4 separate regions of the Homo sapiens genome follow, and all the other regions are linked to region 2. The links come from fine-mapping of genetic effects on gene expression. A gene starts in region 2. Each other region holds a variant in brackets. All regions are shown on one strand. Distances are between the middles of the regions.

Region 1 (8,000 bases), 110 kb after region 2:
GACTCCCTGGGGCCCTGCAGGACAGATGGGTGGGTGGGCTCAGGGCAGGGACACGTTCCGCGCTTCCCTTGGGTTTGGGGGCTTTGGGGGTTTTGGAAAGATCTCTCAAAACCCGAATCACTGGAGCCCTGGCATGCTGAGGGTTAACTCCCAGGCCTCCGTGTCCCCCCAGGGTTGGGGTCCTGTCCCTGCGCCCTGGCTCCCACCTCTGGGCTAACCTTGGAGCCCTTTTTGGACCCCGTGGGGGCAGCTCATTGGCCTCAGCCCTGGGAAACCGCTCTGGCAGTGGGTGGAGAAGGACCCTTGAGCTCCCTTCCTGGGGCCACTGACTCAGCTAGGGCAGCAGAAAGGGCCAGGCTTTCTCTCTGGGGCCTGGCACGGGGCCCCAGTGGTACCATCGAGGTCCACTTGGCATTGCGGGACATTGTGAGCAGCCTCTGTCCTCAGAGAGGGCAGGACGGTGGCGGGCAGGCTGGGGCTGGGGAGGTGCCTGTGTGAAGAGGTCCCACGGTGCATCTCCGGGGACCCCCTCCACAGAGGTTCGTGGTCAGCCCTAGGACTGGGCTGTGCATGGAAGACCTGGGGCAGGAGAGCCCCTGCCCTCTGGGTTGAGGCTTTTTTTTTGTTAACATTTAATTTTGAACAAATTTTAGACTTACAGAAAAGTTGCAAAAATAGCCTAGAGAATCCTGCATGCCCTTCGCCTGGCCTGCTCCCGAATGGCCACAGTGTGGGCGCGCAGCCGAGGCTCCACGTCACCAATGCGACCCAGTCAGTACCGCCTGCTCCCTCTGGACGCCCTTCTCCAGCCATGGTCCCCCCAGGCACTCAGCCCCCGGCCCCTCTGCCTTTCCTCAGCTTGCCCTTTGGAAGTGTGGCCAGCAGTGTTTTCAGAGTCCCTCAGCCTGGGTTTGTCCCGTCTTTCCTTGTGTGGATGAGGGCCCTGCACTGTTGGCGGGGGCAGCACTGGACACACCCTTCCCCAGGCACAGCCCAGGCCTGGCCCACATGCAGCTTCGGTCACGGGGGATGTTGACACAGCGCCTAGTTGGAGCAGCGTCCACAGATTTTTCCTTAGAAAGCTCCTGTCTTCTTTTTATAGTGAGCAGATGCCTCAGGGAGATACCTTGAGACTCTTTGAACCTTAAGCTTGGACCCACTAGTTTTGGCATCCATTGGTGAATATTGGCTGCAATAGTTGTTCTGTGCTGTTTGCCTAATAGTGATTTTCTCTCTTTTTTTTTTTTGAGATGGAGTCTCGTTCTGTCGCCCAGGCTGGAGTGCAGTGGCGCGATCTCAGCTCACTGCAATCTCCGCCTCTCAGGTTCATGCCATTCTCCTGCCTCAGCCTCCCAATGTATCTGAGACTACAGGTGCCCGCGACCATGCCTGGCTAAATTTTTGTATTTTTTTTTTCAGTAGAGACGGGGTTTCACTGTGTTAGCCAAGATGGTCTTGATCTCTTGACCTCGTAATCTGCCTGCCTTGGCCTCCCAAAGTGCTGGGATTACAGACGTGAGCCACCATGCCCGGCCCTAATAGTGATTTTCTATTTCTCTCTTTCCTTTTTAACTTTTTATTTGAACTAACTTCAGACTTGTACGTGAGTTGCAGAAATAGTCCTAGAAGGGGTCTGGACAGGCAAAATGGGGGCCTGAAGGGGGCAGAGAGATTTCTGGCCAAGGAAGTTATGGTTACCAGGCATAGCAGTATATGGGGCAGAGGCTGCAGCAGGAGCCGGGCGTGGTGGTAGATGGGGCAGAGGCTGCAGCAGGAGCCGGGCGTGGCGGTAGATGGGGCAGAGGCTGCAGCAGGAGCTGGGCGTGGAGGTAGATGGGGCAGAGGCTGCAGCAGGAGCTGGGCGTGGAGGTAGATGGGGCAGAGGCTGCAGCAGGAGCTGGGCATGGAGGTAGATGGGGCAGAGGCTGCAGCAGGAACAGGCGTGGAGGTAGATGGGGCAGAGGCTGCAGCAGGAGCTGGGCGTGGAGGTAGATGGGGCAGAGGCTGCAGCAGGAGCCGGGCGTGGAGGTAGATGGGGCAGAGGCTGCAGCAGGAACAGGCGTGGAGGTAGATGGGGCAGAGGCTGCAGCAGGAGCTGCGCGTGGAGGTAGATGGGGCAGAGGCTGCAGCAGGAGCTGGGCATGGAGGTAGATGGGGCAGAGGCTGCAGCAGGAACAGGCGTGGAGGTAGATGGGGCAGAGGCTGCAGCAGGAGCCGGGCGTGGAGGTAGGTGGGGCAGAGGCTGCAGCAGGAACCAGGCATGGAGGTAGATGCGGCAGAGGCTGCAGCAAGAGCCGGGCGTGGAGGTAGATGGGGCAGAGGCTGCAGCAGGAACAGGCGTGGCAGTAGATGGGGCTGAGGCTGCAGCAGGAACAGGCGTGGCAGTAGATGGGGCAGAGGCTGCAGCAGAACTGTGCAGGAGGGAAGTCACTCACTCTTCACTCTCACGGGCTTCCCCTGGCTGCTCAGTAGGGTCCTTTGGAAGCTGCTGAAAACTGCAAATGCTTAGCCCACCCAGGCTCCGTGTGACACAGCCAGGAGTGAGCTCCACAGCTCTGTGTGGTGGACATCCAGCCTCCCTACCCTGGGAAAGCTGAAATGCAAAGAAACACGTGTTTTAGTAGCTAATTATTGGCCTTTGAGCTTCCAAAACCCCACATTCCGGCAATCTGTAGAGCTCTTCAGGCCAGGCGCATTGGCTCATGCCTGTAATCCCAGCACTTTGGGAGGCTGGGGCGGGAGGATCACTTGAGCCCAGGAGTTCAAGACCAGCCTGGGCAACATAGGGAGACCCCGTCTCTACAAAAAATAAAAAATTAGCTGGGTATGGTGGCTTGTGCCTGTCGTCCCAGCTACTCAGGAGGCTGAGGCGGGAGGATCGCTTGAACCCAGGAAGAGGAAGCTGCAGTGAGCCAACATCACGCCACTGCACTCCAGTCTGGGTGACAGAGGGAGACCCTGACTCAAAAAAAAAAAAAAAAAAAAAGGAAAGGAAAAAAGCTCTTGGAGGGTAATATGGGGGTTGGTTAGGGGATGTGGATGGTGTACTGGGCAGGTGGGCCCAGGATGGCGTTCTGCCACTGATGGGCTTTATTCCTGGGCAGTGGCAGCCAGGAGGGCTTTTCTGTAGCGAGCTCAGTGGGGGCGGAGCCTGCAGGCTCCCTGGGGGGCAGAGCGAGGTCTGTGGGGAGCTTCGTTCCAGGTCCAGAGAAGGTGATGTCCAGGCTAGAGCCGGGAGTGCCTGGGGGACCCATGTCAGCTGTGTCTGTTTCCTCCCAGGTCATCAAGCCAACGTTCGCACCCCCAGTGCCCCCAGTCAAACCCGGGGCTGGTGCGGCCAACCCTGGTCCAGCTGAGGTGAGGCCCCAGCACACACCAGGCAGAGTCCACTGTGCAATGGACGGCACGGCCTCCCCACGGGGCTGACGGTGGCACTGCCCTGGAGGGTGGGGTTTTTTTCTGATTATCTGTGGATAAACTTGGGTGACTGAAAGAAAAGGGAAAGGCATTGGCAGTGGCTGTACTGTGGTATCTGTGCTGTGATCAGGGGACTTCTCAGCAGATGCCGACCCCGGCTGTCAGTGGTGCCTGACCTTCCCCCAGCAACTGCAGGGAAGAAAGTCTGTCCTCTGTGAGCTGTATATATTGTGACTGCCACACCTGCCATTGTGTGCATGGGCCATGTTGTTGGTGGATGAACCAAGAATCCACATTTTAAGAGATGTTAAAGGACGTAAAATTTCGTTGTACCCTTTATATACCTTTTATAGCAGGTAGTTTTTCAACATCAATTATCTTTTCCTCCTCCCAGGGTGCTGTTGGCCCAAAGGTTGCCCTGAAGCCCCCCATCCAGAGGAAGCAAGGAGCCGGAGCTCCCACAGCACCCTAGGGGGGCACCTGCGCCTGTGTGGAAATTTGGAGAAGTTGCGGCAGAGAAGCCATGCGTTCCAGCATTCCACGGTCCAGCTAGTGCCGCTCAGCCCTAGACCCTGACTTTGCAGGCTCAGCTGCTGTTCTAACCTCAGGAATGCATCTACCTGAGAGGCTCCTGCTGTCCACGCCCTCAGCCAATTCCTTCTCCCCGCCTTGGCCACGTGTAGCCCCAGCTGTCTGCAGGCACCAGGCTGGGATGAGCTGTGTGCTTGCGGGTGCGTGTGTGTGTACGTGTCTCCAGGTGGCCGCTGGTCTCCCGCTGTGTTCAGGAGGCCACATATACAGCCCCTCCCAGCCACACCTGCCCCTGCTCTGGGGCCTGCTGAGCCGGCTGCCCTGGGCACCCGGTTCCAGGCAGCACAGACGTGGGGCATCCCCAGAAAGACTCCATCCCAGGACCAGGTTCCCCTGCGTGCTCTTCGAGAGGGTGTCAGTGAGCAGACTGCACCCCAAGCTCCCGACTCCAGGTCCCCTGA[T/G]CTTGGGGCCTGTTTCCCATGGGATTCAAGAGGGACAGCCCCAGCTTTGTGTGTGTTTAAGCTTAGGAATCGCCTTTATGGAAAGGGCTATGTGGGAGAGTCAGCTATCTTGTCTGGTTTTCTTGAGACCTCAGATGTGTGTTCAGCAGGGCTGAAAGCTTTTATTCTTTAATAATGAGAAATGTATATTTTACTAATAAATTATTGACCGAGTTCTGTAGATTCTTGTTAGATCAGCGGGGAAGGATGGAGGGCTTCAGTTCACGAGATACAAGGGTCGGCGCTTGGTAAAATGCAGACTGCGAATAGATGAGGTCAAGCCACCTTCTTTTCTCCCTGGATTTCTCAGGCCCTCCCCAGCGTAACTAAGCAGTCCCGCCCCTCCCGCGGGCAGACGATCCGATCCAGGAACCCACGCCCAAGAAGACTTCGCCGCGATGCACGGAGGAGCCCGCGCTACCCCTGCCCCGCCCCGTCTCCGGGCAATGGCCCGGCCCCGCCCCCGCCCCGTCTCCCGGCAACGGCCCCGCCCGCGCCCCGCCCATTCCGTCTCGTCTCCCGGCAACGGCCCCGCCCGCGCCCCGCCCATTCCGTCTCGTCTCCCGGCAACGGCCCCCGCCCGCGCCCCGCCCATTCCGTCTCGTCTCCTGGCAACGGCCCCGCCTCTTCCGGCCCCATGCCCTTGTCCGGGCCACTGCCCCGCACCCCCCCCGCCATGCTGGGCTCGACCCCGGCCCCGCGCGGCCTCCACGCCTGGCTGGACGCGCTCCCGCTCAGCCACCCACGCGCCGCCTGGCCCGGGACCTCAGCTATGGCGGTGGGCGCGCGTCCGCGAAGTCGTGGAGTCCGAGGGGCCCCCGCGGCAGGGGCCTGCGCCCTCGGCCCAGGAGAAGCGGCGAATGGCCCGCGGCGCCCCTCCCGGTTGCTCGCTGACCCCCCCGCCCAAGAGTCTGGGGCTGCGAACCCCGCTTCGCCTTTGCTGCATCCGACTCAGCCTTTCAGATCTGTAGGATCCGGGACTCCAGTGTCCGACTACAGGGCGGGGCTCACGGCCCACACGCGCCGCAGTACCCCGCCCGATGCGCACGTTCCCTCTGGGCACCCCCTGGGAGCGTCCCCGTGGTGCCAGGCTGGCGCGCTGGCCTCTGAGGAGGTGGCTTCTGCTCTAGGCACCTGAGCAGCAAGTCTGAGTGGGCGCCCACGGGGCGGAGGCTGTTAGACGCATCTGGTGCTGCACCGAGGAGGCCTGACGTCCCCTGTGGCCAAGCCCCCACACCCATGGGTGCTGCCTCCGGGTGGCTCCTCCGAGGCAGAGCCCTGAGCTGATAGCGCCCATTCGTCTCGCAGGCCTGCCACGCCCCCAGCTCCCTTCAGCACGAAGAATGAGAGCGTTCTGGAGGGGACAGGCCACTGCACTTGCAGAGGGTGGGTTCCTGTCTCTCAAGCCCATACCTCCCTTCCTCCCGATCTCCCCAGCCTCCGCCGCCCACCCCATTTCCTCGACAGTTGGATTCAAGGCTGGTGTCTACCTTGTAGTGGGGACCCAGCCGCCGGGCGCCAGAGCACCCAGACCCCGGAGTCCAGCAGCTACTGGAGGACAAGGAGCAGGCGCTGTCCTTTCCGCAGGAGACAGTCAGGGTGCAGGCGACCTGGCACCCTTGTTGCCGGGACACCCTGTGGCTGAAGGACTGGGAAACAGGGCCTGTGCGGAGCCTTGCAGAGAGGGCATGGCCTTCATTTTCTCCAGCCCTCCCCAAAATGCAGACATTTGCTGAGTACCTGTGGGCACCAGCTCTTATCACCTGGCGGTGCTGGCTGGCAAGTCTGCCTGGCTGCCCTCCAGCCAGAGCCGAGCCCCTTCTCCCATCCCCAAATGCACAGAAGACAGCCAGAGAGCCAGGGTCCTGGGCAGCACCTGCCCAGCCCAAGACTCCACATGAGCACTTAGATATGCAGTGCACACCTGGCTCTCTGCACACACCTGGTTCTCAACAGACACCTGGCTCTCCATGCACACCTGCTCTCAGTGCACACGCGGCTCTGCAGTGTACACCTGACTCTCTGCACACCTGACTCAGTGCACACCCGGCTCTGCAGCGCACACCTGACTCTCTCTGCACACCTGGTTCTCAGTGCACACCCGGCTCTGCAGCGCACACCTGACTCTCTCTGCACACCTGGTTCTCAGTGCACACCCGGCTCTGCAGCGCACACCTGACTCTGCACACTTGGTTCTCAGTGCACACCTGGCTCTCTCTGCAGACCTGATTCTCCGTGCACACCTGGTTCTCAGTGCACACCTGGCTCTCTCTGCAGACCTGATTCTCCGTGCACACCTGGCTCTCTCTGCACACCTGGTTCTCAGCGCACACCTGCTCTCAGTGCACACGCGGCTCTGCAGTGTACACCTGGCTCTCCGTGCACACCTGGTTCTCAGCGCATACCCAGCTCTGTGGTGTAAACCAGGCTTGACAGGCTCTGTGGACCCATGCCTGGCTCTGCAGGTGCACACCTGGCTCTTTCACCAGGGGTCTCCAGTTTTCCTGCGTGCAGGAAGCCCCTTGCCATACCTGCCTCCCCCAGCTCCAGCCATCAGGACCCTTAAGGGATGCTGGATGGGAGCCCGGACTCCACACAGACGTTCACTCCAGGCCTGCTGGGCAGTGCACGGCCACATCCGGAAGAATCCCTCTCACCCCAGGCACCTGCCTCGGGCACAGTGGCCACAGGAGAGGCCTGCTGACCGCCTCCTAAACCTTCCTATACTGGAAGCACAGACTCAGCCAGTCTCCAGCAGCAAACAACGTGACCCACTGTGGAAAAGCTGAGCTGCCTCAAAGGACGTTTCCCAGGTGAAGCCCAGGAATGACGGCCACATATGGGCAGAGCTGGGTGGCAAGGGGCAGGCCTGTGCTCAGTAGACTCAGCCGGACCAGGGCCCCCATGTGGACCCAACGCCACTCGCCGGTCATCCCAACAGTGTCTCTCGCTCAGAGACAAACTCCAAAGGCCAGGGGGTCTCTGCTGACTCTTCCAGGGCATCCATCTGACCCCATGCTGTGCAACAACTAAGCCAGGGCCCTCCGTGGAGTCGCCTTAAACTGCAGCTTGAGCTGCTTTCCCTCTGGGTGTCATGATGCAGCTGTGATTCTTGCTGCCACACGTGGATCATGGAGGCCGTGACTGGGAAGCCAGCAGCTTCACTTCCTGCCACCACTCCCTCTCTGCCAGGCTGCGGTCAATCTGAAGCCACAAAATGACGTCACTTTCCTGCTTTCTCCAGAAAACAGCTCATCCAGATCTGGGCACCCGCTCAGGAACCGCGATGTCGACATCATCTCCAAGAGCCCCTTCAACCCCGAGGCCCCTTGGGCACAGCCTGCACACCTGCCCCACACACTCTGTCCTGTGTCCCGGGCCCCTGTCTTGAGGTTCTGCCCTCCCCGGTGCCCCTGGGCCGAGGGCTTAGTCCCCTGCGGGGTCTCAGGAAGGAACTTCAGGGCCACAAACCTCAGGAGGGTTCCAAAGCCGCCTCAGGAGGCAAGGCGAAGGCAGCTGAAAGCAGCCGCTTCCTCCCTGAGCCAGAAGGCA
Region 2 (8,000 bases):
ATTCTCCTGGGCCGTTACGGTCGGCCAGTGCCCAGCCTTTGCTGGAAGGCTGTCCAGGCTGGGCTCTGGTCAGGCATCGATGTCCCCCAGGCACCTGGCCTCACCTCGCGTTGGGACAGCCTCTGCAAGATGGAACAGGAAGGGTCTGGCTTTGCCTCTGTCACCTTCTCCCGGTCCATCATGTCCTCCTGGCCAGCCCGTTCCTGGTTCCTGCGGGGAGCCCAGCCCGAAGGGGAACCGAAAGATTCTAACTTAACTCTAGTTCAGCCTCCCGGATCCTCCTGTGGAGCGGCAGGATCCCATAAAAGATACTTGGCTCAGCAACTTGCTGGCCAAGCCTCCCCACAGCGGTCCACACAGGCCAGAGGTAAACATGCCCATGCCCCACACCTGGAAGGCCTGGTGCAAGGAGGGGTGATTGTAGTGACTGAAATGGGAACTCTGGCTTTATGGCGCGGAGAGAGAAGACATGGACCCAAGAGCTGCAGGGTGGGGACAACCGACGCGCTCTTTGTCCCCTGGATGTGGTGCCACAGCCTGAATCCAATAGCACGGGCCGCTGACGCGCTGACCTGGGGCTGGGTTAGTCGCTCGTCCCCCTTGCTCTGAAATGGAGAGTGCACGTGACCACGGCCAGTCCTGGACAATCCTGCCATGCCAGAGCCACCAGCTGGAACACACGGACACAACCTCTTTTCCATCTGACTGGTACAAGGTATGTGCTTCTCCTAGCTCCAGAGGGCCTTGGGTGATGCCACCTATGGTGATCAAGGTGGCAACTACCCATGTGGCTTTGACTGAATCAGGCTTGTTCATTTTTTAAAATAGCTTTATTGATATAGACATCATGCTGTAAGACTTCTCCCGTTTAAAGTGTTCAATTCAATGGTGTTCAGTTTAGTTACAGAGTTGTGCCACTGTCACCATCATCCAGTTTAGAACTTTTTTGTTTTGTTTTGTTTTTTTGAGATGGAGTCTTGCTCTGTTGCCCAGGCTGGAGTGCAGTGACACTACCTTGGCTCACTGCAACCTCTGCCTTCCAAGTTCAAGCAATTCTCCTGCCTCAGCCTCCTGAGTAGCTGGGATTATAGGCATGTGCCACTACGCCCGGCTAATTTTTGTATTTTTAGTAGAGACGGAGTTTCACCATGTTGGACCAGGCTGGTCTCGAACACCTGACCTCAGGTGATCCACCTGCCTTGGCCTCCCAAAGTGCTGGGATTACAGGCGTGAACCACTGCGCCTGGCCCCAAGTTTAGGACATTTTCATCACCCTAAAAAGCAAATGGGGATGCCCCTCAGCAGTCCCCCCCATTACCCCTCCCTCCAGCCCCTGGTGACCGCTAATCTAGTTTCTGTCTCTGTGGATTTGCCTGTTCTGTACATTTCATAGAAATGGAACCTATTCAATGCACGGCCTTTGTGTCTGGCTTTTTTTACTGAGCATAACATTTCCAAGGCTTGTCCATTTTGTAATGTGTATCAGCGCTTCTTTCTTTTTTACTCCTGAATAGAGTCCATTGTATAGTCTAATACATTCTAATGTATCCATTGTTTGGATATATGACATTTTGTTTATCCATTCATGAGTTGATGGACAATTGGCTTTTTCCCTCTTTTTGGCTATTATGAATAATGTTGCTATGAACGTTCATGTCTAAGTTTTTGTGGACATTTGTCTTCATTTCTCTGAGGTGTACACCTAAGAGTGGAGTTGCTGTTTGACCTTTTGAGGAAACAACAGACTGTTTTCCAAAGTGACTGCACCATTTTCCATTCCCGCTGGCAGTGTACCAGCGTTCCCCGCTCACGTCCCCCACAACCCGCTGTGACTGTTGGGCTTTTTATTGCAGCCAGCACAGTAGGTGTGACGTCGTATCACTGAGGGGTCAGTTTGCATTTCCCTAATGATTCGTGATGCTGAGCTTATCTGACACTGATTATCTTCATTGGAGGAATGTCTGTTCAGTCCTCTCACTATCTTGGTAGTGTCCTTTCAGACATAAAAGTTTTAAATTTTGGTGAAATCCAATTTACATATGTTCTCCCTTTGTTGCTTGTGCTTTTGTGGCTACATTACTTGATGGAGGACGGGAGCTGCCCGGCCTCCTGGGTCGTTAGAAAGGAAACCTCTTGGCGGACACGGTGGTCCACTCCTGTAATTCCAGCACTTTGCGAGGCCGAGACCGGTGGATCACTTGAGGTCAGGAGTTCGAGAACAGCCTGGCCAACATGGCAAAACTCCCGACTCTACTAAAAAACTACAAATATTAGCCGGGCATGGTGGTAAGCACCCGTAGTTCCAGCTACTCAGGAGGCTGAGGCAGGAGAATCGCTTGAACCCGGGAGGCGCAAGCTATGATGAGCCGGGATGACACCACTGCACTCCAGCCTGGGTGACAGCGAGACAAGAAAGAAAGGAAAGAAGAGAAGGTGAAGGAGAAGGAAGGAAGGAAATAAACCTCTTTTCTGTCTGAGCCATTTCATTTTGGGCCTGTCTGTCCCAGAGGTTTAACTACACTAGTATAGAGCATCGTTTACTAAAGGTTTGTTGAGGTTTGTTGTTGATTTGTTTCTACTTACACGAGATGTCTTCATTTTTACCCTCGGTCTTGAAATAAAATTTTGGTGCATGTTCATTTTTGGTTTGAATTGAATTATTTTCTTGAACATAGTGAGGCAGGAGAACAGGGTCTGGAGGCCAATTCATGCTGACTCCCTAGAACTAAATCAAATGGAAACACTTCCGCTATGACAAGAAGTGTCCTCTCCATTTACACAGGGCGTACACCAAGTAACCAATGGAAACCTCTAGAGGGTATTTAACCCCCCCAAAAAATCTGTAACGGGGCTCTTGAGCCGCTATGCTCAGCCGCTCCCACAGTGTGGAGTTATTTTCGTTGTCTTTTCTTGTTTCTTTTTTGAGACGAAGTCTGGCTCTATCGCCCAGGCTGGAGGGCAGTGGTGCGATCTCGGCTCACTGCAACCTCCGCCTCCCGGATTCAAGCAATTCTCCTGCGTCAGCCTCCCGAGTAGCTAAGACCACAGGCGTGCACCACCACGCCCGGCTAATTTTTGTGTTTTTAGTAGAGAGGGGGGTTTCACCATGTTGCCCAGGCTGGTCTCAAACTCCTGACGTCAGGTGATCTGCCCGCCTTGGCCTCCCAAAGTGCTGGGATTACAGGCCTGAGCCACCGCGCCCGGCCACACTTTTGTTTTCCATAAATCTCGCTTTTGTTGCTTCCTTCTTTCCGTGCTTTGTTTGTGCGTTTTGTCCAGTTCTTTGTTCAAGACGTCAAGAACCTGGACACCCTCCACCGGTCACAATAGCAGTTTCGCTTTCCATTCCATTTTATCCAGGGTGGTTTTATCTCCACCCTGGCGTTTGCAGAATCCGGGCAAGTACACAAATGGATGCTCCACAATACTTGTCTAGATATTTAAAAGGTATAAATAAAATAACTTAAATGAATGAAATTTTTATTATTTAAATCTGTTGAAGTCTTGTGTGCATGAAAATAAAACTCCTCCTAATGTGGCGTTCAGTGCCCACGCCGCTGCCACCGTGCCTGGCCCTGCGCCTGGGCGCGCTGTGTCCGCTGCTACAGACGCCGGCGGGCAGGCGGGCAGGCGGGCAGGCGGGCAGGCGGGCAGGCGGGCAGGCGGGCAGGCGGGCGGGGGGAGGCGGCGCAGAGCCCGGCAGGCGCCGCCGTTGCCTCCGCCTCCGCGCGGTCTCCCCGGGGCCAGCTGGGACCCCGAGGGCTGGGGCGGGGGCGGGGGCGCGGGCGACTGCGGCGGGGCCTGGAGGGCGCTGGTCCCAGCCCAGGGCGGGGTCCCGGGGACGCCCCTCGGCCTTAGATCCGCGAGCGGCAGCTCGGGCCTGGGGGCGGGGCCTGGCGGAGAGCGACCCGCTCACTCTGCCCGGGCTGATCTCGCGAGGGCCGCCTGGTCTCGCGGCGCTGGCCTGTGGGCGGAGCGAGCCCTGAAAGGCTATAGGCGAGGGGGCGGCTCCGCGGGGCCGGGCGAGGAGTCCAGAGAGCCATGGCCGCCCTGCGTGTCCTGCTGTCCTGCGTCCGCGGCCCGCTGAGGCCCCCGGTTCGCTGTCCCGCCTGGCGTCCCTTCGCCTCGGGTGAGTGCGCGGTGAGAGCTGGCGGCCCGAATCTCCTCCTGACTCCGACCTGCACGCCCAGACCAGATCCCAGACCGCACCCCCCTCCCACCTGACCCCGCATCCCCCACCTGACCCCAACCCACACCCCTCTTCCGCCTGACCCCGCACCCTCACCTGACCCCTACCCGCACCCCACTCCGCCTGACCCCGCACCCCCCCGCCTGACCCCGCACCCCCCCACCTGACCCCGCACCCTCCGGCCTGACCCCTACCCGCACCCCACTCCGCCTGACCCCGCACCCCCCCACCTGACCCCGCACCCCCCGGCCTGACCCCGCACCCCTCTTCCGTCCGATCCCGCATCCCCAGGGCCTGACTCCGCACTCTCCTGCCTGACCCCGCACCTACCACCTGACCCCGACCCGCAGCCCCTGCCTGGCTCAGGCCTGCAACACCCCCCTCGCCTAGTGCTGCACCCCCCACCTGACCCGCACCCACAGCCTGACCCAGGCTTAACACCCCCCCACCACCCGCCACCCCGCACCGACACCACCCACCTGACCCTGGCCCGCACCCCCACCCCCTGCCTGGCTCTGCAGGAGGCCACTCTCACCAGGCCACGTCCTGCGGGAGGCCCGGCGGCTGGCTGGTACTGCCCCAGTGCCAAGACCTCTGGCCAACTGGGCGCAGGGTGGGGGTTGTAAAAATCCGGGGTGTTCCCTCGGCTCTAAGAGCAGGCGTAGCTCCTGTGCAGCCGGCCAGCCCGAGAACAGGAGATGCAGGTGCATTTTGTCCTGGGTGCCTCCTGACCAGGGCCACCCCTCAGAGGGTCCTAAGGGAAAAGCTGACACCTCCTCCCCAGCCACAGGGGGCTGCCCTCTTCCTCCCTCGTGGCTCACCCGGGGCCCCACTCATGAGCGGCCATCACCGGCTCTAGTATCTGAGGAATCTTGGGCCATGCCTTGGGCTGGGGAAGAACTCTTGCTTCCTCTTCCTCCCTCACCCTGTGTAGCAGTGGACCACTGAGTTGTGTTGGTTTCATCTCCATGCTCTCCTTGGCCTTCGGCTTCTCCACCCTGACAGCAGCCCTTTCCTGGATCTTGCATGGCGGGCACTGCTGCCAGACACTTCACCTGTGATCTTCCAGTTACCCCTAGAAACCCACAGGATACGGCGGGGCACAGTGGCTAATGCCTATAATCCCAGCACTTTGGGAGGCTGAGGCAGGTGGATCACCTGAGGTCATCAAGACCACCTTGGCCAACATGGTGAAACCCCATGTCTACTAAAAATACAAAAATTAGCCAGGTGTGGTGGTGTGTGACCGTAGTCCCAGCTACTCGGGAGGCTGAGGCAGGAGAATCACCTGAACCCTGTAGGCAGAGGTCGCAGTGAGCCAAGATTGCGCCACTGCACTCCAGCCTGGGCAATAGAGTGAGACTCGGTCTCCAAAAAAAAGAAACCCATAGCACAGGGACTATGATCCCTGCTCTGCCACTAACGGAGGCAAGCATCCAACACACAGGCTACCTTTGTCTTTTCAGGTTCACCTTCTCACCCCTGGAACGCCATTGTCCTTTGTCTCCTTCCCACCTTGCTGTCCACCCAGCAGGCGCAGGTCCTGTGCAGCAGGCCAACCGAGAAGCGCCTGCGTCTCCCATTTTCGGGCTGGCCTGCTGCTCCGGACCTGTGCCTGATCTTAATGCTGCAGGAACACCCAGGATTTTCACATCCCCCACCCTGCGTCCAGTTGGCCAGAGGTCTTGGCACTGGGGCGGTACCAAGTGCAAGGAGCTGCCTTACACCCCCTCACCTGTTGGCATTTGTTGAAAGAAGGTGTTTCCTGGTGCCTTGTCTCAGCAGAGTCCAGGGCTGTCTCCAGAGTGGTGTCCTGGGAAGAGCTGACCAAGGCATATTAGGAGAAGGAAAGCGGCTGTGGGCTGTGTTCTGTGCTGGGGATTTTTCTTTTTTTCTTTTCTTTTTTTTTGAGACGGAGTCTCACTCTGTCACCCAGGCTGGAGTGCAGTGGCATGATCTCAGCTCACTGCAAGCTCCACCTCCTGGGTTCATGCCACTCTCCTGCCTCAGCCTCCCCAGTAGCTGGGACTACAGGCGCCCGCCACAACACCCGACTAATTTTTTGTATTTTAGGTAGAGACGGCGTTTCACCGTGTTAGCCAGGATGGTCTCGATCTCCTGACCTTGTGATTCGACCGCTTCGGCCTCCCAAATTGCTGGGATTACAGGCGTGAGCCACCGCGCCCGGCCCGGGGATTTTCTTTAGGACATGTTCAAACACATGTGAAAGCAGAGAGAATGGTACCAAGGCTACCATCTATCCTTGTGGCTGAGAGCTACACCTGGAGCCACTGAGGACTCGGCAGGGAGCCCTCAGAGGGCCTCTTGGGGTCACACTGTATCCACCGATGGGGCCACATCCCTTCCCCCACTCTCCCCAGTTTGATACCTGTGTGAATAGATACCCCTTTTTGCCTTCTTGCTCCAGGTGCTAACTTTGAGTACATCATCGCAGAAAAAAGAGGGAAGAATAACACCGTGGGGTTGATCCAACTGAACCGCCCCAAGGCCCTCAATGCACTTTGCGATGGCCTGATTGACGAGCTCAACCAGGCCCTGAAGACCTTCGAGGAGGACCCGGCCGTGGGGGCCATTGTCCTCACCGGCGGGGATAAGGCCTTTGCAGGTACGCGCGGCAGCAGAGGCCTTTGTGTCTGGGCAGATGTGGGAGGCACGTATGGCCTTGGGAGAAGCCTCCAGACAGATTTGCGCCTCTGTGATGGCAGAGGCATGCGACTGGGGACTTCCTCAAATATCGAGTGAAGACGGTCATGGGAACGGCTTGCATGAGCAGCTTTGTGTATGCCAGAGAGCTGCATGTGCTCCACCAGCAAAACAGCTTCTTCAAAGGGGTTTAGGTCCTTGGCAGTCAGGCTTTGTGTGTGTCAAGGGCTTATGCCCTGACAAATATGCCTAGCCTCTGTGGGCGCCTCCCTTGCACCTGCTGCCTGCCTCAGGGCCCCTCTGCGTGACTTCTGTTCTAGCTGGCATTACAGCGTCCCTACAGCTGTCCACGTGGCCTGGTGTCAGCCGTGCCCAGCAACCCCACTGCCTGTGTCTGGTGTGCTCTGAAGTTCCTTGTTGGTCTGAGAGATATAGGATGGGTGGGCTCTCTGCTCTCTGGTAACTGGAACCTCCTTTCCACTCCTGCTAGCTGGAGCTGATATCAAGGAAATGCAGAACCTGAGTTTCCAGGACTGTTACTCCAGCAAGTTCTTGAAGCACTGGGACCACCTCACCCAGGTCAAGAAGCCAGTCATCGCTGCTGTCAATGGCTATGCCGTGAGTGTTGCTGCCAAGAGTCTCCTCCTCTCGTGGTTGAAGGAACCGTGCTGTGCATACACAGCATAACAGATTTTTATTTTGAAGAGGCCTTTAGTTCCCAGGCCAGCAGCCTCCTTTCCTGCCTCATGGTGCTAAAGAGCCAGGAACTGTGTGGAGAGGACACCTCCTGGCATCTGCTTTTTTCGTGGCTGTTCACCTGACAGCTTCTCCCCAGCAAGCCTCTCTTCCAGGGTGGGGGAAGAGAGGTGTTGGCTTTGGCTACATCTATAAACTAGCTTCTTTTGCTCCCCTTGAAAGCTCTGTGTCCTGGGACTATTTGAAGTGCTGAGACTGATCTTGGCCTATAGGGAAGGCAATGTGATCATTTCATGACGCTCCCTGCCGTGTAAGCCAGGGGTCTGCGGATTGTGATCATTTCATGACGCTCCCTGCCGTGTAAGCCAGGGGTCTGCGGATTGTGATCATTTCATGACGCTCCCTGCCGTGTAAACCAGGGGTCTGCGGATTGTGATCATTTCATGACACT
Region 3 (8,000 bases), 87 kb after region 2:
AGCCACTGTGCCCGGCCCCTAGGTTCGTTTTAGCCGAGAAGTGTTGGGGTTACAGGCGTGAGCCACCGTGCCCGGCCCCTAGGTTCGTTTTAGCCCACAGTTGAGAAGTAACTGGTAGATTAGGCTCGGCCCTTGTGGAACGTTACTTGGAAGTGTGCTGGCCTCTGTTAATGTCCCTGCGCGCTGCCGGCCTGGAGAAGTGTCGCCTGCCTCAGGCGCCCTTGCTTTGCCTGTGACCGAAGCGCTCCCTGTGGTTTTAGTGAGTTTATGGTCGAGGAGCACGAGCTGCGGAAGGAGAGGATCCAGGAGGATTACAACGACAAGTACTGGGACCAGCGGTACACCATCGTCCAGCAGCAGATCCCGTCCTTCCTGCAGAAAATGGCGGACAAGATCCTCAGCACAGGTGCGGCGCAGCGGGCGGGGACTTGGGGTGCGCAGCACAGCTCTGCCTGGAGAGTCTCCTGCAGCCCAGGCCCTCCCACCGGGAGCCTGTGCCTCACCCTGTGGTTGCCCTGAGCCCTGGTGTCCGTGAATGCGGGGCTGAGGTCAGGACTGGCCCGTGGGCTGGGCTGCGGCGCTGAGTTAGGCCTTGAGATGGTCTCTGTTGCCAGGTTCCCTCAGGTTTCCATCTCCGGGACTCTGTCCCTGACCCTGCGAGGCTCTCTCACAGGTGCCTTCTCTATTTCTGTTTCTGATTTCTAAAACTCCGCTAGCATGTCAGGAAAAACCAGCAAAGACACACGCCTGGCGGCCGGCAGTGTTTCCTATCTCTGACCACACAGGTTAGGGCCTGACCTGGACCCAGGGCAGTGGCGCGGGGACTTGGACTCGGCACATCGGGGCCGTCACGAAAGGGTTGGGAAGCGATTAGCCATCCGGTTCTCATAATGCCTGTTCGAAATTATTTCTGTGCCCTTGGTTAGAAAATTCCAGATGTGCAGAGCCACGGCAAAGCCCTGCCACCACCAGCTCAGTCTGTAGCCGCTGACAGTGATTTACCGGGAAGGAGCAAGGGTGTGGAGCCGCCTCATGCAGCCCAGTTTCCATTCCACTGCCTTCTGTGTAGACAAAGACAGCTGGGGCCTCAGACTGACCGTGTGGAGAGCCCATTCAATGTCCATTCCACTGCCTCCTGTGTAGACAAAGACAGCTGGGGCCTGAGATCGACCATGTGGAGAATAAAATTTTGAATTTCTGTGTTTTCAGGAAAATATCTAAATGTGGTCAGAGAGTGTGGCCATGACGTCACCTGCCCGGTGGCTAAAGAGATCATCTACACGTTAAAAGAGCGGGCGTATGTGGAGCAGATCGAGAAGGCGTTTAACTACGCCAGCAAGGTGCTGCTGGACTTCCTGATGGAGGAGAAGGAGCTGGTGGCTCACCTCAGGTGATTCCGTGCCCTGTCCCTGTGCGGGCACTCACCTCCCTCTGAAACCGGAACCTGTGGGACGTGGGGCTGAGATCGCTGGGTTTCTTCTGGCAGCTCCGCCTTGTCTTTTTGAAAGTGGGCACTGCTGGATGGTCTCTAGCTCAAGGACCTGGCACTCACAGTGGGTGGTGTAGGCCCCCGGTCACCTTGTCCAGGGGCCCCAGCTCCCCTCCTTGCCCAGGGCCCACCAGCCCCTTCTCAGCTCCTCCTGCCACAGCTTGCGTGGTGGTTGCACAGCCCCTGCCTGAGAGCCAAGCGCTTAGCCTGTTGTAGTGTGTTTTAGGGTGATGGCTATGGCGAGCATCTGTGGGTGGGCACGTGCTCACGCCTGCTCCCTGGCCGTGGCGGGCACCTGCGGGTGGGCACGTGCTCACGCCTGCTCCCTGGCTGTGGCGGGCACCTGCGGGTGGGCACGTGCTCACGCCTGCTCCCTGGCTGTGGCGGGCACCTGCGGGTGGGCACCTGCTCACGCCTGCTCCCTGGCGCAGGTCCATCAAGCGCTACTTCCTCATGGACCAGGGCGACTTCTTCGTGCACTTCATGGACCTCGCGGAGGAGGAGCTCCGGAAGCCGGTGGAGGACATCACGCCCCCTCGCCTGGAAGCGCTCCTGGAGCTGGCGCTGCGCATGAGCACGGCCAACACTGACCCCTTCAAGGACGACCTCAAGGTGGGTGGGGGTGCCGGGGGCTGTCCCCTGTGGCAGAGGCCTCGGAGGGGCTGGGAGGAGAGCACAGCAGAGGCCAGCCCTGTCCCCCACTCCCCGTCCCGGTGAGGCGACCGCAGGGTCTGTTTCCTTCACTTGGCTACCGGGGCCGGCTTGCCGGGATCGGGGGTCTTTGTGCCTGTGCTCTGGAGGGGCGCGGGTCTCGGGTTTTCCTGCAGTGCCCTCGTCCGGGCCTGGCTTTCAGGTCATGCTGGCCTTGTGGAATTGTTTTCACGTGTCCCTCCATCTGTCTTTTGAAAGGGTTTCAGGTCTTTTGAAAGGGTTTCAGGAGTGGTGTTAATTCTTTTTGTTTTTGCCTTTTTGTTGTCGTTGTTTTTTGTTTTTTTTTTTGAGACGGAGTTTTGCTCTTGTCACCCAGGCTGGAGTGCAGTGGCATGATCTCAGCTCACTGCAGCCTCCACCTCCTGGGTTCAAGTGATGCTCTACCTCAGCCTCCCGAGTAGCTGGGATTACAGGTGCGCGCCACCACGCCCAGCTAATTTTTGTATTTTTAGTAGAGATGGGGTTTCACCATGTTTCCCAGGCTGGTCTTGAACTCTTGACCTCAGGTGATCCACCCACCTTGGCCTCCCAAAGTGCTGGGATTACAGGCATGAGCCACCGTGCCCAGCCGTTTTTTAAAATATATATATGTTTTATCTGTTTTTTACTATTTTTAATAGAGACGGGGGTCTGTGTTGCCCAGGCTGGTTGAACCCCTGGGCTCAAGCGATCCTTCACCTGCGCCTCCCCAGGAGGGTGTTGATTCTTTGGCTGTTTGGCAGGGTTTGCCTGGGAGCTCTTGGGCCCTGGGTTTGTCTTTGTTGGAGACTTTTGAGGGGGACTTGGCCCCTTGCTGGCCACAGGTCTGCTCAGTCCCTTTCCTCTTGGTCGGCTGTCTGTCTCGCATCTTGTCTGGTGCACAGTTCATGGGTTTCTAGTATCTGCTTTTTATTTCTGTAAGATTAGTAGTTATATCCCTTCTTTTTCTGATTTTAGTAATTTGAATCTTCTTTCGTCTTAGCTGATGTAGCTAGAAATTTGTCGATTTCATTATCTTTTCAAAGAACCAACTCTTGGGTTTGTTGACTGTATTTTTCTGTTTTCTCTCTTCTGTCATCTTTGTTACTCCTGTCTGCTGCTTAGGGGTTCAGTGTGGTCTTCTTTTTTCTAGTTTCTTAATTTGAAAAGTTAGTTTACAGCTGTAAACATCCCTCCGAGTGCAGCCTTCGCTGATCCCCTAGCGTCATAATTTCTGTTTGTCTGGAGGTGTTTCTGATTCCCTCTGATTTCTTGTTGGAGCCGTGGGTGGTTTATGTTTAACTTCCACATGTTTGTGAAGTTTCTGGTTTTCCTTCTGTTGCTTGTTTCTAACTTTATCTCCTTGTTAGAGAACAGACTTTTTGTGATTTCAGTTTTGTGAAATGTATTGATTTGTGTAGTGGCCCCACATCCATCCTGGAGAGTGTTCCGTGCGCGCGGGAGGAGGATGTGCCCTCGGTTCCGTGCGCGCGGGAGGAGGACGCGCCCTCGGTGCTGTTGGGGTGGTGTTCTGCAGGTGGGTTGAGGCCGTGTCTTTCCTCACTGATCGTCTGTC[C/T]GGCGGTTCTCTCCGTGGTTAGAAGTAGGGCACCGAGTCTCCCTGTCACTGAAGAACTGCTTTTCTCCTTGTCATTCTGTCTATTCTTGATTCAGATATTTTGGGGTCTCTTGTTAGGAGCAGGAATATTTTCGTAGGAAAAATTCCTGGTAGTGAAATTGTTGGGTCACAATACATGGCCCTTGTATGACTAGGCTGACCTTGCTGGAGTTGATGGAGTCCAGTCTCAGGACGCTGCTGTCTGCACACCTGCGAAAGCTCCCACCTTGGCTATTTGATGGACAAGTGATGTCAGGGGCTCATTTCTGCGTTTGTGATGGTCACGATTTCGTCTGTCCGCTGCTTGTTTCTTCTTGCTTTATCCCCTGCCCTTCATTTCCTGTCCTGTCGTTGTGCGATGGTTTTGTAGGAACTCTGTTGCGGGTGGTTGGAACTTAGCAAATACTCGAGTGATTAACGTGAGGACAGTATTACTTGCTTATAATAACTATTATGTCCCTCGTCAAATATGCTTCATTTTTCAACCTGGGCCTGGTGCTTATCATGGTACAAAGGTTTTCGTCCTAAGGAATCACGTTTCTTTCACCGTCCTTAGCGGTTTTTCCCTTATACCACCCACAGCAGCAGTGGGTATTTACAAAGTAATTCATCTGAATTTTTGTTGTTTTGTTCTGATGGGAAGTGGTTCAGTTTTGAATTTGATTTATCAGTAGATGTTTGGGTTTTTGAAAAGCCTCTGATATTTAGAATCGGAATGTAGGGAACCTTACGTCAGCGCTGGGTCTGTGAGCGAGGATGGCGATCGGGATGCGACTTCGGGTCTTTTCCTTAAAACTGGATGCTTTGTTTCATTTCCTTCCCTCCAAGATCGACCTGATGCCCCATGACCTCATCACTCAGCTCTTGCGCGTCCTGGCCATCGAGACCAAGCAGGAGAAGGCGATGGCGCACGCCGACCCCACGGAGCTGGCGCTGAGCGGCCTGGAGGCCTTCTCTTTCGACTACATCGTCAAGTGGCCCCTTTCGCTCATCATCAACAGGTGCGGGTCGGCTGCTCGGGCACCTGCCAGATCTTCACTCAGGTTTGGCAGAAGCGAGAACTGTGCCACGCGGTGGCCACCTCGTCCCACAGAGGACCCAAGGCGGCTCTCCCCGGCCTTCAGTGTCCGAGAGATTCACGGGCTGTCCGGGGGCCACGGTGCGGACTGTGGAGTACAGACGCCGTGTCCACGACGCCGCCGGTCACGGAGGCCCACCTGAGGTGCCGCCACGTCTCTTGCAGGAAAGCCCTCACTCGCTACCAGATGCTCTTCAGGCACATGTTCTACTGCAAGCACGTGGAGCGGCAGCTCTGCAGCGTCTGGATCAGCAACAAAACCGCCAAGCAGCACTCGCTGCACTCCGCCCAGTGGTGCGTTCTTCCTCTGCCCCCGCATGCCCTCCTGAAGCAGCGCTCGCTGCACTCTGCCCAGTGGTGCAGCGCCCCCCTTGTGCCCTCCTGGTAGACAGCTTTCTAGGCTTCTGGAAGTGTCATCTGGAAGCGCACGTTGGTGGCTTTAGATCCATAATGCTTCATTGCTTCATTTTCCTGTCTTGGGGCTGCACGGCGCTGCCGTCCACCCCACAGGGGATGCTGGCTCTGTCCCTCAGCCCTCTCTGGAGCCTTGTGGTGACTGCACGGGCATGGAGACTGCCCAGGTCGGTGTGCAGGACACTAGCTCCTCCCGAGAGCGGACAGCCACATCTTGCTGGGACCAGAGGTGCTTTGCAGCCGGTCTGTGCCTCTAGGGTGTTGAAAAAAGGGGTCGATGGCAGAGCTTCATAAGAATTTGTCCAGTCGGGTGCAGTGGCTCATGCCTGTAATCTCAGCACTTTGGGAAGCTGAGGAGGGAGGATTGTTTGAGCCCACAAGTTCGAGACCCGCCTGGACAATGTAACAAGAGCTCATCTCTTAAAAAAAAAGAAAATTATTTTAATTAGCCGGGAATGCCTGTAGTTCCAGCAACTCAGGAGGCTGAGGTGGGAGGGTTGCTTGAGTCCAGGAGGTCAAGGCTGCAGTGAGCCAAGATCGTGCCACTGCACTGCAGTCTGAGCGACAGCAAGACCCTGTCTCTCGAAGAAAAAAAGAAATTAGAAGAAAAAGAACTCATCTTGATGATGAAGCACAAATATGCATCTGTTGTGTGGCACTTTCCTGGCGTGGGCTCCGAGGGGTCCGTCCACCAAGGAGCCCGCGTCCCAGTCTCCACCGTCCAGCTGGCTGGGGGTGTCCCTGCAGGGCACAGGTTGGTAGACGGTGACAGCTTGTGCTGGGCAGACGCAGGAGCAGCGGCCGTGAGTGTCTGGTGTGCTGGGAGGGGCGCTTGCTCTGCAGAGGAAATAGCCACGTCCAGAGAACGTCCTCCATGGCTGTCCTCCGTCCTCCGTGTCACTTGGTGGGCGCTGTCGGGGCCGCGTCCTCCATGGCTGTCCTCCGTCCTCCGTGTCACTCAGGTTTGCTGGGGCTTTCACTCTGCGGCAGCGAATGCTCAACTTCGTCCAGAATATTCAATACTACATGATGTTTGAAGTGATGGAACCGACCTGGCACATCCTGGAGAAAAACCTGAAATCCGTGAGTTTTAGCTCCACAGATAATAACGTTTGAAAGCCACTTTCCTTTCACAGGGAGACAGGAAGTGCAGGAGAGGCAGGGCGAGGGGAGAGGCAGGGAGTGCAGGAGAGGCAGGGAATGCAGGGAGACGCAGGGAGTGCAGGAGAGGCAGGGAGTGCGGGAGAGGCAGGGCGTGCGGGAGAGGCAGGGAATGCGGGAGAGGCAGGGAGTGCAGGGAGACACGGAGTGCAGGAGAGGCAGGGCAAGGGGAGAGGAAGGGATCCCCCAGGGCGGGGCTGCACCCACACTGCTGGCCACACACGGGACCCCTTGCTGCCTGCCGTCCTAGGGGGACTCTGAGCCGTCTTTGCCCCGAGGTTGTCTCTCCCACATTGCGCATCTGAGGCTGAGGGGCCTGAAGGCAGAATCTGTTGGTACCAAATTCCAGAAGCTGCCGCAGCCTCCCTTCCTGTCTTCTGCCTTAAGAAATGAAACCCCTTCGGGGTGTGCCCATCATTTTTTTAGTGGTGTTTGGAAGTTTTCCCCTAAAAGCCCAAGGCCCATTTAAGAGGTAGAAGTGCGTAAACAGGAATGCACAAAGCCAGAACTGAGCACGTGCGCATGCAGGGCCCGTCTGTCAGCCACGTCTTTCTGAGAAGGGGCTTGGCCTGTTCCCCGCAGGCCTCCAACATTGACGACGTCCTTGGCCACCACACAGGCTTCCTGGACACCTGCCTGAAGGACTGCATGCTCACCAACCCCGAGCTGCTGAAGGTCTTCTCCAAGCTCATGTCTGTGTGCGTCATGTTCACCAACTGCATGCAGGTGCGTGGGTGTGGGTAGCACCATCGGGTGGGCAGGCGCGGGTGGGCAGACCATGTCCCGACCGTGGCCGCACGCAGCCTGCTCACGTTTTCCTGCCCTTGTGTTCGTGGAGGAGCCGCTGGGATCTGAGTGTTTCCAGAACTCCTGGTCTTCCTGGCCGGGTGATTCCCTCCTGGAGCCCCTGCCCTGGCAGCGTGGGCAGGGCTGTGTTCCTCCCGAACCATCCCTCAGCCTCTGTGGTGCTGGTCTCTGTCCGGGGCCTTTGCTTATGGCCCTTGCATGCTCTTTTCCTCAGCACTTGAGCTATTTGATTCCGTTAAGGACCTGCAGGCACTAGTCACAAGCAGCTGCCGACTGGCGATGGTGCAGAACCTGCGTGTCTAGTGGCAGAAGCAGGGGTCTGAGAATGAGGCTCTCCAGGCAGTGCCATGGGGAGGGTCCGGAGGAGGGCGAGTGGGGAGGTGGAGGAGGGCATGGCCACTTCAGGGTCCCAAATAGGGAAACACCAAAATAACTGTTCTCAGGAAAATCAGCTGGTCACCGTGGAAGGTAGACCTGGGAATTCTGTCGGCACAGATAAGTCATTTCCCCTGCAGCCTCAGAGATGCTTGTGTACCCCCAGCCGCAGGCTACAACAGAGGTGCGGAGGGTGACGTGCCTGCAGGACTTGTTTTTTCTGCAAAGCATTGTGGTTGTAACTAACAGAAGCATTTCCTTGCGACTCTCCCCCCCTAGAAATTTACACAGAGCATGAAATTAGATGGCGAGCTGGGCGGGCAGACGCTGGAGCACAGCACCGTCCTGGGGCTGCCCGCAGGGGCCGAGGAGCGGGCCCGGAAGGAGCTCGC
Region 4 (8,000 bases), 23 kb after region 2:
CGCTTCGGGAGGAACTGTCGGCTGGAGAGGCCTCGGTGTGGGCCATGCCCTATGCCTGTGGCATAGGTGGCCTCCCGCTGAAAGCCTCACTTGCCCTGGCAGGCAGGGGAGGTAAAGGACACGAGGTCATTTGGAGTCCAGTGCCAGGCAGAGGTGGGATGCAGGGGGTTCCTGAAAGGGGGTGCCTGGGAGGCTTGCCCATGGGATGCTTGGACTGGTCCCCAAGGATGGGGAAGAATAACCACCAGCCACTGTCCGGACCCTCGTCTTGCTCCCCAGAACTTGCTGCAGTGACAGGTACAGGAAGAAGATGGGGCAGGGCTGGAGTTTGAGGGACCAAGGGCAGGAGTGGGGATGACAGGGGCTTCCCCCAGGGCCTGGGGCTGGTGTCCCCGGGGCTCGAGGGGGCAAGTCCCAGGGTTCCAGACCCCCACTCCAGACCGCAGGAGAACCTTGGGGGTGCAGGCAAGCCCACCCCGGCTGAGATGTGGCTCCAAATCTGGGGAAGGGACCCTGTCTGGGCTTGGCTGCAGACTTTGGGGTCCTGTCCGCCTGCTGCTCCCAGATGGTAGCCAAGGCTTTCTCTGTGCTCACTAGTGGTCAGCCTTGGCCCCAGGGGCCTCGCACTTGCCTGGCCAATCACTGCTCATCTCTAGACCCGATGGCCGCGTCGTGGCCTAACATCAGCGGTGTACGAGCTGGTTGCACACACCCTCGCCCATCCCCAGGCTCAGCCCCACAGATGAGCCTCTGGGGTTAGTGTGCCCTCTCTAGCATGTTATATAAATGAAGCCATATATGAGCAAACTAAGTAAAATCACGAGAAAAAACAAAGTAATGGGCAAAACAAAATAAAATCAAGATAGCTTTAAAAAAAAAAAAAAAGCCACAAACACCAGCTTGGGCTGCCTAGGGCAAGACCCTCCTGCAACTCAGAGATCCAGGGTCTTCTACCTGCCTGGGGCTCAGGGAGTGGGGAAGGAGTTGCCCAAATCTCAGCCCTGAGCGTGTTGATCCCTCAATGCCCTCCTACCCCATGTTCTTATCAGGATGACAGGGGAGGCTGCCAAGGGAGAAGCTGGCAGCCCATCTCTGGCCCTTTTAGGACAGAACCTCAAAGGTCACTGGCCTCTCCAGCTCATCCATAAGCCAGGGTAACAGCTCTTACATTGTGGGACACCGTGGGGCACCCTTGGGCAGTTACTCTCAGCCGTTGGTGTCCTGGGAGAGCGGGGATTTGCTGGCGGTGCAAGGAGCTCTTCCACACCTGGGCAAACCCTCAGCCCCCTGAGTGGCCACACGAGGGCTGAACACGGCAGGATGAGGGACGGGTGGCCTCTCTCCCTTGCTCCGTTCTGTCTTAGCTGCTGGAGCTGGCAAATGTGTGTGGCTCAGCCCCGGGCTTGGCACCAGGTGCTTCTCTCTCACCATAGGGATGAGACTGCCACGCAGGAACCCCGCCCACATTTGCATGTGCCCAGGACACATGCGGTGTGTGAGTGACTCCAGCAGCCTGGACCTGCGCTGCAGCATTGGGCCTGCTGGGCCAGGAGGACAGGATGGGCACCCAGAGTGGGAGCTGCACAGAACGTCAGGAGGGCAGAAAGGCCATGTCCTGGGCCTGGGTCTACCCGCCCTCACCTGAGACCTGTGCACTTTCCACCTGAGCACATGCACGTCCGTTCAGCTGGGCCCTGAGCCCCAGGCACTCGGCCACCCTCCTCCCCGACCCTGTCTCAGGCTCCTGCTGTAGGGAGCCCAGGGTGGGTTCTGTTTCTCAGCTGAGACTGGTCCCAGGGTGCCCTCTGGTCCCATCCCCTAACTGCTGCCACACCCCTCACCATCCCGGTATACAAGGAGGAGGGCCTGGGGGTAGTGCAACCTTCTGGGAGCCAAGGGTCACCTGGGCCTTGTGCAGCCCTTGATTCTCCTAGGCAGGGCAGGCTGGGCCCCGGTCATCGGTCTTCTGGGGCATGTGGCCTCCCACCTGTTTGCAGGGGTTGATTGATTGATTGATTGATCGATTGAGATGGAGTCTTGCTCTGTCGCCCAGCCTGGAGTGCAATGGCACGATCTCAGCTCAATGCAACCTCCGCCTCCCAGATTCAAGCGATTCTCCTGCCTCAGCCTCTCAAGTAGCTGGGATTACAGGCACCCGGCACCATACCCGGCTAATTTTTGTATTTTTAGTAGAGACGGGGTTTCACCATGTTGCCCAGGCTGGTCTGGAACTCCTGATTTCAGGTGATCCGCCTGCCTCGGCCTCTAAAAGTGCTGGGATTACAGAGGTGAGCCACCGCGCCCGGCCTGCTGGGGTTTATTTGTCTAGCTGGGGCAGGGTAGGGAGGGTCCCAGTCCCAACAGCCTGGGCCTTGGGACAGGGCGGGGGCAGTGATGGCCCCTGGAGCCCTACTGGGGGTGGTAGATGTGGTCTTGGTCTTCCTCCGGTCCCAGGAGCACCTGGTGATTTGGCATCACCCACAACCGGGGCCTCTCCTCGCCCTGGTCCTCCTCAGGCGGAGGGTGGTACAGGCTGTCATGGTCGGGCTCGGGACTCAGGACATGGCCCAGGGTGTCCTCGGTCTCCATCCAGGCCTTGGTGCCTAGGGACAAGCACATGAAGGTATAGTCTCAGTTTCTTTCCCGAGACCCTTGGTCTGTCCAAGTCAACCCCACGAGCGGACTCTGCTGCTGTGACCTTGTGCCCACCTGGAAGGATGGGGCCCCTGCCCTGACCTCGTGGCTTCTCCTCGGTGGTCAAGAGTTTCGGCTTCTGGACAGGGAACAGCACCACCAGCTGGTCGTCCTTCTCCGGAGGCTCCACCACACGGGCGCCCCAGGCCCTGCTGGCACAGTTTGGTCAGGTCCACATGCAGGTGGGGGAGGTGGACAGAACCCCCCGCAGGAGGGTGCCCACCATCCCAGGGCAGCCACTCCAGCCCCACCACCAGCAGCCCCAGGACAAGCCTCTCTCTCAAGAGCCAGTGATGAGTGGCCCCCAGTGCTCCCGGCCAGGCTTCCACACCACGTCCCTGGGTGGCTGCGTGGGGAGCAGTGGTCAGAGCCTTGGTTGAGCAGTGTCCCAAGGGCAAGGATGTGGGGAACCTCAGGATCCAAGACTGAGCCGCCCCAGCTACAGCCACCAGCCGTGGAGCACAAGCTGCCCTGGAGGCTGTGGGGAAGCTGAGTAGGGAGACACCGTGGAGCCCCAAGCCCTCCGGCTGTGCTCTCTTCTCCCTGCATGGGGCGCTGTTGACAGATGCCCATGAGGCTGGAGTGCCCCCTCCTTCCAAAAGCTGCTGGACAGGGCTCCTCTCTGCATCTGCCCCGTGCTCTCCAGGTTCAGGAAGGGCCCAGCAGAACGGGCTGTAGCTTCAGGGAATGGGTGGTGGGGAGGTGGGGTTGGGGGGACTTACTTCTCTGGGTCCTGCTCTGAGGGCCAGTGTTTGACTTGCATCTTGATAGGGACCTGGGGGAGAGTCACAGGTGTGGGCTGGGCCACAGTCCACGCGGGTGGAGGACACCTGGGGAGAGGTTGCTCCGAGGCCCACCTGGGGCTGCATGGGGTGGAGGTGGCTGCAGGGGGTGGGGGCAGGGCCAGCTCAGCACAGCTCGAGCGTCTCTAGTGGGCAAGCCACTCTCGGGTGTTGGGATTGCAAGCCGGGATTGAGGTTGCCGGCCTGTGCCCAGATGACCAGCTGGCCTGGAATTCTGGCCGGGTCTGGGGCAGCACAGGACTGGGATGTAACCTGGCAC[C/A]GTATCCCTGACCTAGCACTCCCAACCCTGGCCGTCAATGCACTGGCTGTTTTCTGCAGTGACTGGTTGGGTCTGTGTCTGCACCACCCCTTCCTGGCTGGTGCCGAGAGAACGCGGTCAGCCGCTCTGAGCCCAGCTAACCTTAGTTGTCAGCTGCTCTGAGCCCAGCCAACCTTAGTTGTCAGCTGCTCTGAGCCCAGCCATCCTCAGTGGGGCAAAGGACAGACAGGAGAGCAAAGCAGGTGACCCCAGGGGAGGACCAGTGGCTCCAGGGGAGGACCAGCACCGTGGGGGGGCTGTGCCCATGCTCCTGCGTCTCCAGTCAAGGAAGGCGTGGGCCTCCTTCCTCCCGATCCATCCCAGGTGTGCAAGACTGTGTGGCCTTGACATGGGCCAGGGAACAGGGCCCGTCCCCAGGCATAGTCCCGGCTGAGGACACCACTGTCAGCACAGACAGTGCAGCTGAGCCACTAGCACATGGAGTCACCTCTGGCCTTCAAGGCCCAGGTGAGTATCAAGGGGTGTCATCCGGGCCCTCCTCCACCTGGGTCACATGGGTTCATCTGGGATCACCTGTTCCACTTGGGACCACGTGGGTGTCATCCGGGCCCACCTCCTCCACCTGGGGTCACGGGGGCTCATCTGGACCCACCTCGTCCACCTGGGGTCATGTGGGCTCATCTGGACCCACATCATCCACCTAGGACCACCTGGGTGTCTTGAGGCCTGTCCATCTGACCCCAGGGAAGGGAAGCCTGCCCCCTCCTCATGCCTGCACAGGCATCAAGAGTCATGAGCGTACCCATGCCTCTCTCCCCTAAGCCAGCTTGGGGTTTGAAGCCAGAAGAGGGGCCCTTTGTCCACATCCCCTGCTGTAGGGGCAGAAGGTGACAACTGGAGTTGCTGCCCAGATGGGAGGGGCTCACACCTACCTTGGGTGCTGGGACTGCACCTGCCTCCCACAGCAGCACAACCACCAGGCTGGTGACCAGGAGGAGCCTGAGGGGGGGCCAGAGAGGGAAGTGTGAGGTAGGGGAAGGGGACGCCCTGAACTCCAGGCAGCACCCTGATGGGCAGCTGGGAGGCCTGGGCTGGGTTCCTCCTTGGGAGCGCAGGTAGTTTTACTGGACTGTGCTCACATGGGCCAAGACACGCAGGCACAGAACAGGGAGAAGCCCCAGGCCCACCTGCCTCCAGCCCCCCTCAGGCCAGAGCCCACAGCCCCAGCCCCAGACTCTGCTCCTCACAGTCTGGGCAGACCCCACTGTGGCAGGCACTGGTGGTTGGCTTGGAAACTCCAGAGGTTCTGCCATGCCTCTGTGCCGCCCTCCACGTGGGGACACACATGAACACACTTGCACATGGGTGTGGGTATGGGTGGGTATGGAGCAGCGAGGGCCCACAGCCCCACGCCCACAGAGCCCTGAGGCTGCACGCTGCTGCAGGCAGGGCACCTGCTGTGTCCCAGAGCTGCGGGGCCACGGCTGGGGGGCTCAGGGGTGAATGGCAGCACTATTAGGCAGGCAGGCAGGGTGTCAGGTCAGTTCGGACACGGGATGTGTGTGTTTGTGTATGTGGTGGGGGGTGTGCATATGTTGTCTGTGCATGTGTGTTTTGTGGGTGTGGACCATGTGCATGGTGGGTGTGCATGTATGCTGTGGGTGGTGTCGTGTTCGGGTGTGTGTGCACTGTGTGCTTCAGTGTGTGGTGCATGTGTATGTTGTGTGTGGTGCGGAGTGTGTGAGTTCGGGGGTGCGTGTGCTGTGTGTGTATGTTATGTGTGTTTGTGTGTGGTGGATGTGTGTGTATGTTGTGTGTGGTGTGGAGTGTGTGGGCTTGGGTGTGTGTGTGTGCTGTGTGTGCATGTATGTGTTGGATGTGTATGTATGTTGTGTGTGGGGTGGAGCGTAAGGGTTTGGGGGTGGGTGTGTGCTGTGTGCATGCGTGTGTGGTGTGTAGAGTGTGAGGGTTTGGGAGTGTGTCTGTGTGTGCGTGCGTGTGTGATGTGGTGCAGACTTGTCTCTTCAGGGCCCTGCGGGGGAGGCTTGCGTCTGTCAGGGTGGGGTGGTCTTGGGGTGGGGCGGGGCTCTGGGTCTGTACAGGGCTCAGCAGGGCTGCAGTCAAGGGTGTCTGGGGCAGGCGCAGTGGTTCACACCCATAATCCCAGCACTTTGGGAGGCTGAGGTGGGCAGATCACCTGAGGTCAGGAGTTTGAGACCAGCCTGGCCAACATGGCAAAACTCCGTCTCTACTAAAAATATGAAACTGCCTGGGCACGGTGACTCACGCCTGTAATCCCAGCACTTTGGGAGGCTGAGGCAACAGATCACTTGAGGTTAGGCATTCGAAACCAGCCTGGCCAATATGGTGAAAACTTGTCTCTACTAAAAATACAAAAAAAAAAAAAAAAAAATTAGCCAGGCGTGGTGGCAGGTGCCTGTAATCCCAGCTACTTGGGAGGCTGAGGCAGGAGAATCACTTGAACCTGGGAGGTGGAGGTTTCAATGAGCCAAGATGGCGCCACTGCAGTCCCTCCAGCCTGGGCGACAGAGCGAGACACTCTGTCTCAAAAAAAAAAAAACAAAACTTAGCTGGGGGTGGTGGCACACACCTGTAATCGCAGCTACTCCTGCTGAGGCAGAAGAATCAGTGTCTGGGACACCCTGCAGGCCTGGATTGCAGCTCCACAGGGACCTTTGCCCGTTCTCTGGGTGACTCAGCCATGGTGAGAGGTCAAAGGGCAGGGGGGATGCCCCGGACAGCCCGGGGCCGGGACCTGGTCTGGTCTGGTTCGGGGGCCCTGCTTCTCCTCAGGACCCCCAGCTGGTTCTGATGCTGGGCAGGGGCTCTTGTCTGGGCACTGGACCCCAATCCCACTGCCGTGCTGCCTGGGCCACCCCTGGTGCCCACCTCCCATGACACACAGCCTGGGGGCCTGGGATTCGGGTCACGGTAGCCCCTAGAAAGGTGGTCGGTGGTGACTGCCAAGCAGCCTGGCTGTGGGATCCCCGTGGGTCCCCTCTCCAGGCAAACGGCTCTGGGCACCAAAGGGTCCCCAAGCTACCCAGAAGCCACCTCTCTACAAGGGAGAAACACCAGGAGAGGAGGGGCAGGGAGGGCCCTGGCTTAGAGGAGGGGGAAGAGGAGGAGGGCACCTCCACAGGAGCGGGGAGAGGGGTCCCCCACACAAGGAGGGGGAAGACAGACACCCCCACAGAAGGAAGGCAGCCTCTGATTCCAGGGTCCAGCGGGAGCCCGGGTGCTTCCCTGAGCTCCAGATCACAGCTCCCAGGGTGACACCACCTCAGGGCAGCCCCTGGCTCCTGCGCCCCAGCCCCTCCCCTCCCCCAGCCCCCTTCCTTTTGGGCAGTCACAGGCCTGCTGGTTTCAGCCTGGCACCTCCCCTTTCCTTGTTCCGGGTGGGGGTCCCTGGGTGATTCTCCACCAGGCCAGGGGAACCAAGAGGCAAGTGCACTCGGGGCCACAGAGGAGGTAGAGCCTGGTGGCAGACCCCAGACCCTCAGAGGGCCCCTCCTTCTCCCTCCCACCCGCACACTCCCCTGAACCAGGCCCCCTGGAGCGCAGCACAGCTGGGCCCCCTCTGGCTAAGGGCCAGGCCTCCAGGTTTGGGTGGGGTGGGGATTGGGGCTCAGGGATGGTGGCATTACCTCCTCATGTCTGGGGTCCGCGTCTCTGTAGAGAGTGCTCAGGGAGCTGCAGTGGCTGATCCCAGTATCTGGCACCCGGCCCAGCTCCTCCTGCCCAGGCCCAGGCCAATTGGGGCTTTGTTGCTGCCGCTTGGGGCGTGTCAGGACAGAGGTCGGGGCCAGGGATCCCACCCTGGGTAGCTCAGGTGACTGGCTCTGCAGCCGCCCAGCCCACTCGGGCCTGGATCTGAGCGGGGACACCCAGCTGCCTGCTCAGGGCCTGCCACACGACTGAGGAAGAAATTTGCCTTTAAAAACATGCTTGTTGACCGGGCGCGGTGGCTCACACCTGTAATCCCAGCACTTTGGGAGGCTGAGGCAGGTGGATTGCCTGAAGTCAGGGGATTGAGACCAGCCTGGCCAACATAGTGAAACTCCGTCTCTACTAAAAATAAAAAAAATTAAGTGGGCGTGGTGGTGGGCTCCTGTCATTCCAGCTACTCAGGAGGCTGAGGCAGGAGAATTGCTTGAACCTGGGAGGCGGAGGTTGCAGTGAGCCGAGATTGCGCCACTGCAGTCCAGCCTGGGCAACAAAGA

What was found. PIP is the estimated chance that this variant, and not a neighbour inherited with it, causes the effect.
Region 1: its variant is the best candidate, but not a certain one, in a credible set for the expression of ECHS1 in whole blood (TOPMed, PIP 0.67).
Region 3: its variant is the best candidate, but not a certain one, in a credible set for the expression of ECHS1 in blood mononuclear cells (TOPMed, PIP 0.76).
Region 4: its variant is the best candidate, but not a certain one, in a credible set for the expression of ECHS1 in whole blood (INTERVAL, PIP 0.82).

What each region holds. Positions count from the first base shown.
Region 1 is chr10:133,259,045-133,267,044 of GRCh38, reverse strand. It overlaps ADAM8 (ADAM metallopeptidase domain 8), which reads left to right. Exons shown (of 23, transcript NM_001109.5): 22 at 3,280-3,357; 23 at 3,812-4,622. The coding sequence ends at 3,889. Among named protein-coding and RNA genes, the nearest start is that of ADAM8, 14 kb to the left of the region's middle. RefSeq lists enhancers at 3,745-4,721, 7,660-7,709 and a silencer at 5,038-5,367. The variant T/G (reference allele first, on the strand shown) is at 4,410.
Region 2 is chr10:133,369,375-133,377,374 of GRCh38, reverse strand. It overlaps ECHS1 (enoyl-CoA hydratase, short chain 1), which reads left to right and starts at 4,021. Exons shown (of 8, transcript NM_004092.4): 1 at 4,021-4,129; 2 at 6,618-6,815; 3 at 7,344-7,471. The coding sequence starts at 4,042. It overlaps MIR3944 (microRNA 3944), which reads left to right and starts at 5,712; the gene lies at 5,712-5,819. LOC124902563 (a long non-coding RNA gene) reads left to right here. Exons shown (of 2, transcript XR_007062395.1): 1 at 1-715; 2 at 2,169-2,639. RefSeq lists an enhancer at 3,278-3,367 and a silencer at 3,749-4,258.
Region 3 is chr10:133,282,230-133,290,229 of GRCh38, reverse strand. It overlaps TUBGCP2 (tubulin gamma complex component 2), which reads left to right. Exons shown (of 18, transcript NM_006659.4): 9 at 261-406; 10 at 1,210-1,390; 11 at 1,921-2,101; 12 at 4,602-4,774; 13 at 5,017-5,145; 14 at 6,228-6,348; 15 at 7,009-7,152; 16 at 7,888-8,000. Among named protein-coding and RNA genes, the nearest start is that of ADAM8, 9.4 kb to the right of the region's middle. The variant C/T (reference allele first, on the strand shown) is at 3,735.
Region 4 is chr10:133,346,850-133,354,849 of GRCh38, reverse strand. It overlaps ZNF511-PRAP1 (ZNF511-PRAP1 readthrough), which reads right to left. Exons shown (of 9, transcript NM_001396060.1): 6 at 4,689-4,755; 7 at 3,417-3,469; 8 at 2,710-2,843; 9 at 2,167-2,603. The coding sequence ends at 2,410. PRAP1 (proline rich acidic protein 1) reads right to left here and starts at 7,477. Exons shown (of 5, transcript NM_145202.5): 1 at 7,425-7,477; 2 at 4,689-4,755; 3 at 3,417-3,469; 4 at 2,710-2,843; 5 at 2,167-2,603. The coding sequence starts at 7,432. The coding sequence ends at 2,410. It also overlaps a transcript of FUOM not described here. RefSeq lists enhancers at 6,132-6,791, 6,792-7,451, 7,452-8,000. The variant C/A (reference allele first, on the strand shown) is at 3,757.